2 linked regions of the Homo sapiens genome follow. The protein of the gene in region 1 purifies or fractionates together with the protein of each later gene. This does not show direct contact. Each region holds a gene or a part of one and is shown in the gene's direction. Other genes may lie near its edges.

What was found. The genes of interacting proteins can lie anywhere in the genome.
Region 2: the proteins of TAS1R3 (region 1) and LRRC3 purify together in Homo sapiens (affinity purification with mass spectrometry; one large-scale study listed by BioGRID and IntAct). This does not show direct contact.

Annotation. Positions count from the first base shown.
Region 1 is NC_000001.11:1,329,955-1,334,079, forward strand, and holds the start of TAS1R3 (taste receptor type 1 member 3 precursor), read left to right. Parts: upstream 1-1,325; 5' UTR 1,326-1,391; coding exon 1,392-1,582; intron 1,583-1,683; coding exon 1,684-1,984; intron 1,985-2,069; coding exon 2,070-2,852; intron 2,853-2,966; coding exon 2,967-3,170; intron 3,171-3,304; coding exon 3,305-3,425; coding exon of another isoform or gene 3,426-3,551; coding exon 3,552-4,125. UniProt on the Homo sapiens protein: Putative taste receptor. TAS1R1/TAS1R3 responds to the umami taste stimulus (the taste of monosodium glutamate). TAS1R2/TAS1R3 recognizes diverse natural and synthetic sweeteners.
Region 2 is NC_000021.9:44,459,419-44,462,696, forward strand, and holds the end of LRRC3 (leucine-rich repeat-containing protein 3 precursor), read left to right. Parts: 3' UTR 1-2,778; downstream 2,779-3,278.

The DNA of each region.
Region 1 (4,125 bases):
GTTTTGTGTGTGCCATGCGCGTGTGCCATGCACTTGCCGTGCGTGTGCCATTTGTGTGTACCATGCGCATGTGCCATTCGTGTGCACCGTACACGTGTGCCATTTGCATGTATGCTGTGCACGTGTGGCATGCATGTGTGCCGTTTGCATGCCATGCATGTGTTCCTTGCGTGTGCCGTGCGTGTCCCATGCACGTGTGCCGTGCATGTGCCATTCGCGTGTACCATGCGCATGTGCCGTTTGTGTGTGTGCCGCATTCCTGTGCTCGTGTGCCAGGTTCGCATGTGCGCCATATTCACGTGTGCTCAGCATGTGCCATATGCATGTGCGGTGGTAGTGTGTGTCCCTCACAGGTCCTCCTCACAACACCATGGGGAAGAAGCACCAGCCAGGGCACACCTCCTGGTATCTGCTAGGTCTGCCAGGCCCTAGCTGAAGCTGAGTGCCCCCCAGTTCCCCTGGGAGGGCCTGCGCCTGGAGTCTGCTGTGTCCCCGAGGGCACCCCCAAAGCAACACAGAGGCAGAGGAGTCCCGGCCCTGCACACCTGGTGCTGCTCCAGCTGCCGCTCATTTGCCTGTGGCCCTTCCTCCCTTGTTTGCGTGCCCCCCTGGCAAACAAACTCTACCCCCAGCAGGAGCCACCTGTGTGCCTGCCACGCAGGAGTGGCCCAGACGGGGGTCAGCAGTGTGAGTACAGCTGGCCATGCGGTTCCTACAGCTTCCAGGCGTCAGACTCTGGCAGAAGGGCTGAGACCCTCAAGGAACTCTGCTCCCAAGCAGACTGGGAGGGCAGCACCACCACCCCAGGGCCCTCCCCAGCTGCAGGGTGGAGGCCTGGCTGGCCGGCTGCCCACTGGCCTGACTGGTCTGCAGGCCTAGGGGGCCCATCCCTGCTGCCCCCGGCTCCGGCCAGCACAGCCTTGAGTGGGAGCCAGAAGCTCCCGGGGCTGGGTAGGAGGCATTTCTGTGCTTATGAAAAGCCCCAGGGCTGGGTGTCTCTGCATCCCTCCCACGCAGCTGAGACCTCAGAGCCCTGGAGGCCCCTTTGCCCCCTCTCCTCTCCACAGCCTGCTGGGCAACTCCAGGAATCGGGGGGTGGCAAGGGGCTCAGCCACAGGCAGGGAACAAGGCCACGGCCAGCAACTGAGCAGAGCCTGCCTGCCGGTCAACGCTGGCCATAGAGCCTGGCAGTGGCCTCAGGCAGAGTCTGACGCGCACAAACTTTCAGGCCCAGGAAGCGAGGACACCACTGGGGCCCCAGGGTGTGGCAAGTGAGGATGGCAAGGGTTTTGCTAAACAAATCCTCTGCCCGCTCCCCGCCCCGGGCTCACTCCATGTGAGGCCCCAGTCGGGGCAGCCACCTGCCGTGCCTGTTGGAAGTTGCCTCTGCCATGCTGGGCCCTGCTGTCCTGGGCCTCAGCCTCTGGGCTCTCCTGCACCCTGGGACGGGGGCCCCATTGTGCCTGTCACAGCAACTTAGGATGAAGGGGGACTACGTGCTGGGGGGGCTGTTCCCCCTGGGCGAGGCCGAGGAGGCTGGCCTCCGCAGCCGGACACGGCCCAGCAGCCCTGTGTGCACCAGGTACAGAGGTGGGACGGCCTGGGTCGGGGTCAGGGTGACCAGGTCTGGGGTGCTCCTGAGCTGGGGCCGAGGTGGCCATCTGCGGTTCTGTGTGGCCCCAGGTTCTCCTCAAACGGCCTGCTCTGGGCACTGGCCATGAAAATGGCCGTGGAGGAGATCAACAACAAGTCGGATCTGCTGCCCGGGCTGCGCCTGGGCTACGACCTCTTTGATACGTGCTCGGAGCCTGTGGTGGCCATGAAGCCCAGCCTCATGTTCCTGGCCAAGGCAGGCAGCCGCGACATCGCCGCCTACTGCAACTACACGCAGTACCAGCCCCGTGTGCTGGCTGTCATCGGGCCCCACTCGTCAGAGCTCGCCATGGTCACCGGCAAGTTCTTCAGCTTCTTCCTCATGCCCCAGGTGGGCGCCCCCCACCATCACCCACCCCCACCCAGCCCTGCCCGTGGGAGCCCCTGTGTCAGGAGATGCCTCTTGGCCCTTGCAGGTCAGCTACGGTGCTAGCATGGAGCTGCTGAGCGCCCGGGAGACCTTCCCCTCCTTCTTCCGCACCGTGCCCAGCGACCGTGTGCAGCTGACGGCCGCCGCGGAGCTGCTGCAGGAGTTCGGCTGGAACTGGGTGGCCGCCCTGGGCAGCGACGACGAGTACGGCCGGCAGGGCCTGAGCATCTTCTCGGCCCTGGCCGCGGCACGCGGCATCTGCATCGCGCACGAGGGCCTGGTGCCGCTGCCCCGTGCCGATGACTCGCGGCTGGGGAAGGTGCAGGACGTCCTGCACCAGGTGAACCAGAGCAGCGTGCAGGTGGTGCTGCTGTTCGCCTCCGTGCACGCCGCCCACGCCCTCTTCAACTACAGCATCAGCAGCAGGCTCTCGCCCAAGGTGTGGGTGGCCAGCGAGGCCTGGCTGACCTCTGACCTGGTCATGGGGCTGCCCGGCATGGCCCAGATGGGCACGGTGCTTGGCTTCCTCCAGAGGGGTGCCCAGCTGCACGAGTTCCCCCAGTACGTGAAGACGCACCTGGCCCTGGCCACCGACCCGGCCTTCTGCTCTGCCCTGGGCGAGAGGGAGCAGGGTCTGGAGGAGGACGTGGTGGGCCAGCGCTGCCCGCAGTGTGACTGCATCACGCTGCAGAACGTGAGCGCAGGGCTAAATCACCACCAGACGTTCTCTGTCTACGCAGCTGTGTATAGCGTGGCCCAGGCCCTGCACAACACTCTTCAGTGCAACGCCTCAGGCTGCCCCGCGCAGGACCCCGTGAAGCCCTGGCAGGTGAGCCCGGGAGATGGGGGTGTGCTGTCCTCTGCATGTGCCCAGGCCACCAGGCACGGCCACCACGCCTGAGCTGGAGGTGGCTGGCGGCTCAGCCCCGTCCCCCGCCCGCAGCTCCTGGAGAACATGTACAACCTGACCTTCCACGTGGGCGGGCTGCCGCTGCGGTTCGACAGCAGCGGAAACGTGGACATGGAGTACGACCTGAAGCTGTGGGTGTGGCAGGGCTCAGTGCCCAGGCTCCACGACGTGGGCAGGTTCAACGGCAGCCTCAGGACAGAGCGCCTGAAGATCCGCTGGCACACGTCTGACAACCAGGTGAGGTGAGGGTGGGTGTGCCAGGCGTGCCCGTGGTAGCCCCCGCGGCAGGGCGCAGCCTGGGGGTGGGGGCCGTTCCAGTCTCCCGTGGGCATGCCCAGCCGAGCAGAGCCAGACCCCAGGCCTGTGCGCAGAAGCCCGTGTCCCGGTGCTCGCGGCAGTGCCAGGAGGGCCAGGTGCGCCGGGTCAAGGGGTTCCACTCCTGCTGCTACGACTGTGTGGACTGCGAGGCGGGCAGCTACCGGCAAAACCCAGGTGAGCCGCCTTCCCGGCAGGCGGGGGTGGGAACGCAGCAGGGGAGGGTCCTGCCAAGTCCTGACTCTGAGACCAGAGCCCACAGGGTACAAGACGAACACCCAGCGCCCTTCTCCTCTCTCACAGACGACATCGCCTGCACCTTTTGTGGCCAGGATGAGTGGTCCCCGGAGCGAAGCACACGCTGCTTCCGCCGCAGGTCTCGGTTCCTGGCATGGGGCGAGCCGGCTGTGCTGCTGCTGCTCCTGCTGCTGAGCCTGGCGCTGGGCCTTGTGCTGGCTGCTTTGGGGCTGTTCGTTCACCATCGGGACAGCCCACTGGTTCAGGCCTCGGGGGGGCCCCTGGCCTGCTTTGGCCTGGTGTGCCTGGGCCTGGTCTGCCTCAGCGTCCTCCTGTTCCCTGGCCAGCCCAGCCCTGCCCGATGCCTGGCCCAGCAGCCCTTGTCCCACCTCCCGCTCACGGGCTGCCTGAGCACACTCTTCCTGCAGGCGGCCGAGATCTTCGTGGAGTCAGAACTGCCTCTGAGCTGGGCAGACCGGCTGAGTGGCTGCCTGCGGGGGCCCTGGGCCTGGCTGGTGGTGCTGCTGGCCATGCTGGTGGAGGTCGCACTGTGCACCTGGTACCTGGTGGCCTTCCCGCCGGAGGTGGTGACGGACTGGCACATGCTGCCCACGGAGGCGCTGGTGCACTGCCGCACACG
Region 2 (3,278 bases), on another chromosome or scaffold:
GATGCAGGTAGGGCAGGTGAACTGTTGCTGGCCTGGCCAGCAGGCCTAGGGTCACATGGTGATTGGCGTCCTCCTGCCACCCCTTCTCCATGCCAGGGTGCCTGTGGTGGGTTTGCCCAGCACGCATGACCCCAGGTCCCAAGGAGAGTGTGAACTGAGGCCTGGGTGGTGAAGGCAGGGCCTCTCCTCAGCCCTGTGTCCTGTGGGTGCCAGCCAGTCCCATCTCGCATTTTGGGGTGCCCTTTCCCTGCTGCCAGGGGACTCTTCATTTGTCCTTACCCTAGAATCAGCCCAGACACTGGACATCACCCAGACGTGGCCCTTCAGGAGGTGCACAGGGCAGGGGCAGGCCCGTCCCTCCCTGCCCCAATTTGCTGGGCTGCCTCAGCCCAGGGTCTGGCCTTCTCCTTGGTGAAGGTCTGCTGGGCCCCTGTCCACCTCCTGCTGGGAGGAGGAGATGGGGAGAGGACCAGGAGGACACCGGAGGCCCTGTCCCCTGCACTGTGAGCTCAGTCAGGTCCATGAGCTGCCCACCGTCCTGGCCTTACTGTGCCCCCTGCCCCACCAACATAGGTGAAAGCACCTCCCCTCTAAGGAAGACCATAGAGACCCCAACACTGTGGGACCCCAAAGCTCCTTCATGCTCACTGGAGCTCCCACCGTGGGTGCTTGCAAGTCCTCAGCGCTCCCGGGGTACAGCCCTCCCCTTCCTGCCCTCTAATGTCCTCCCCTCCCTTGCCCTTCCCTCCACTTCCTTTCTCTGCCGTCCCCTCCTCTCCCATCTTGTGACCTCTTTACTGGCGGGGCCTGGAGCCCATGATGGACACTTGCGGAAGGAGGGGTGGCGGAGCACCCCTGAGATGACATCGCTGCCTGCCCCAGAGCACCCCGCCTCTCCCTGTGACTCAGTTCTTTGCAGCCCAGATGTGAGCATGTGCACCCTGGGACCTGCTGCCCGTTGGGATGCCCAGGCCAAATCAGCCCCTCTGCCTCCATGCTGCACTGATTGCAAGAGTTTCCCACATCTGCAGAGGCCGTGGGCTCAGCCCCACACCAGCCAGGCCACCAGTGTTGATAGCGGTGAGGCGGGGACAAAGGGAATGTCTCAGTTCACAGTGTGGACATGGTGGAGGTCTCGGCCTTGCGAGACAAGGCAGGGGGAGGGGATAGGAAATTGGGGGTATTCTGTGACTCCTGGGCCACCGGGGAGCCAGAATCTTCCAGCCAGACTGGATGGGCAGGGCTTAGCTTCCTGATGCCGCCCATTCACCACTTTCACCCCGGGAACCTACCTGGGCATCATGGGAGGCAGAGCCTGAACCCCAACCCAACCCTAACTCTAATGCTAACCCCTAAACCATCCCCCACCCTAACCCAATCCTCGCCCTAACCCTAATGCTAACCCCTGACCCGACCCAATCCTAACCCTGATGCTAACCCCTGACTCAACTCTCACCCTAACCCTGATGCTAACCCCTGACCCAATCCTCACCCTAACCCTGATACTAACCCTTAACCTAACCCAACCCAGCCCTAACTCCAACTCTAAAGCTAACTCCTAACCCTAGGAGAGGAGCCCAGGCCGGGCCCTCTCCCTGCTGGTTTCCTGTTGGGCTTTGGAGCCCCAGATGCCTGCCCAGAGGCTTCCTTGTGCGGGGTGGGGTCCAGCAGTGGGGGATGGGCCCAGAGCTGGTATAGCCACCAGCAGAGCCATCCTGATCCACAGGACCATCCCTGGTGGGGTGGGGCCCCCTGGGGCAGGAAGGCCACTGAGGCCAGGGAGACTCCCAGGCCCACTCACGGCGCAGGCCCCACAGGAGCTGGCTGGAGGCTATGGGTGCGGGGCGTGGGCCTGCCGGGGGTTGCGTGACAGGCAGTGGGGAGTGGGTTGTGCTGGCAGCTGTGGGTGAGTGAGGAGGCTCCTCTCATGAAGGGCCCTGGGGAAGTGGAATCTGGCCCTGAGAGACCCCCGGCCTCCTCTGCAGGGGCTGCTGGCAGGAGGGGAACCGGGGACCACCTCCCGCCACAGAGCCTGGGGCCCCCAGCCTTGCCTACAGGGAGGGTAGATGAGAGTGTAAACTGCATATGAGGTTGGGCTAAACCTGGACATGTGTTTCATAACCAAAGCAGCCAGGAATCTCCGGCTCTGCCCAGTGATCATCTGGGCAGGACATGGGGACGAGTGTCCAGGCTGAAGTCAGGGCCCGGCCAGCAGAGGGCCATTTTGTATTGAGCTCCACAGCTGGTCACATTCTGTGGAATGTGCAGACGTGCACGGCCCATCAGACAGGGTCTGGAGTGGGGCTGCCGTCTTGGGCAGCTCCTCCCGGGTGTCTGCAAAATGCAGAGGTCACCAGAGCCAAGGCAGCAAGGCAAGGAGCCCGGCTTCTAAGGAACTCTGAGCAGGTGTGGTCCATGGCTGGGAGGCAGCTGGCCCCACAGCACATAGCACGGAGGGCGGCGCGGAGTCCTGGACGCTCTTGGCAGGTCCCCTCATGGAGGATGTGGGGGATTGGCTTAGGCCTGGTCTGGCTGGCCTTCCTGGACCGCAGTGGCCAGGAGCTGAAAACCGTGACCCCAGTCTCCCTGCAGCTGTTCTTGATGGGATTTCTGTTCGCCAGTCAGATGCATTTGCACAGGACTTGGATCCTGAACTGTGTAACCTGGAGAGGCAGGTGTGAGCGGGCCATGCTGCTGGCCCAGCCTGTGCCGGTGTCTGTTTCTGTTGTCTCTCGGCCCTTCTGTGAGCCCTCAGTAAAGCTCTTCGTGCTTCAGTCAGCAAGTGTGGATTCTGTCGTCGGCAACTCTGCGGCCCAAACCCCGAGCCTCCCCCTCCCCCAGACCTTGCAGTGCCATGGAGCTGAGGGACCTGTGGATCCACAGCTGTGGCCCCGGAAGGGCTGCAGGAGCTGAACCTGCGTGAGCCCCGCAGAGGGTGCAGAGCCGGCTTGTGCAGGCTCCCAGCAGGCTCATGACAGCGCGGATGGTTAAATGTAGCTCCTGACAGCCAACTGTTAAGGTTTCAGGCATTTTTGCACCAGGTGACATGATGGTAGCCTGAACGTGACCTTGGCAGCAGTCTCTACATCAAGGAAACTGGCAAATGTCAACATGCTGGGTACCCTCGCTCCTGCCGCCGCAGGCTGTCAGTGTCTTCCAGCCCACACTGCGGGGGGCCTTGTTGTGTGGCTGCCTCCCAGGCTGGGGCGAGGGTCTCCAGAGACCACCATCGTGCAGGCTCTTGGTCAATAGCAGGGTGTGGTGCTCCTGCCAGGGGA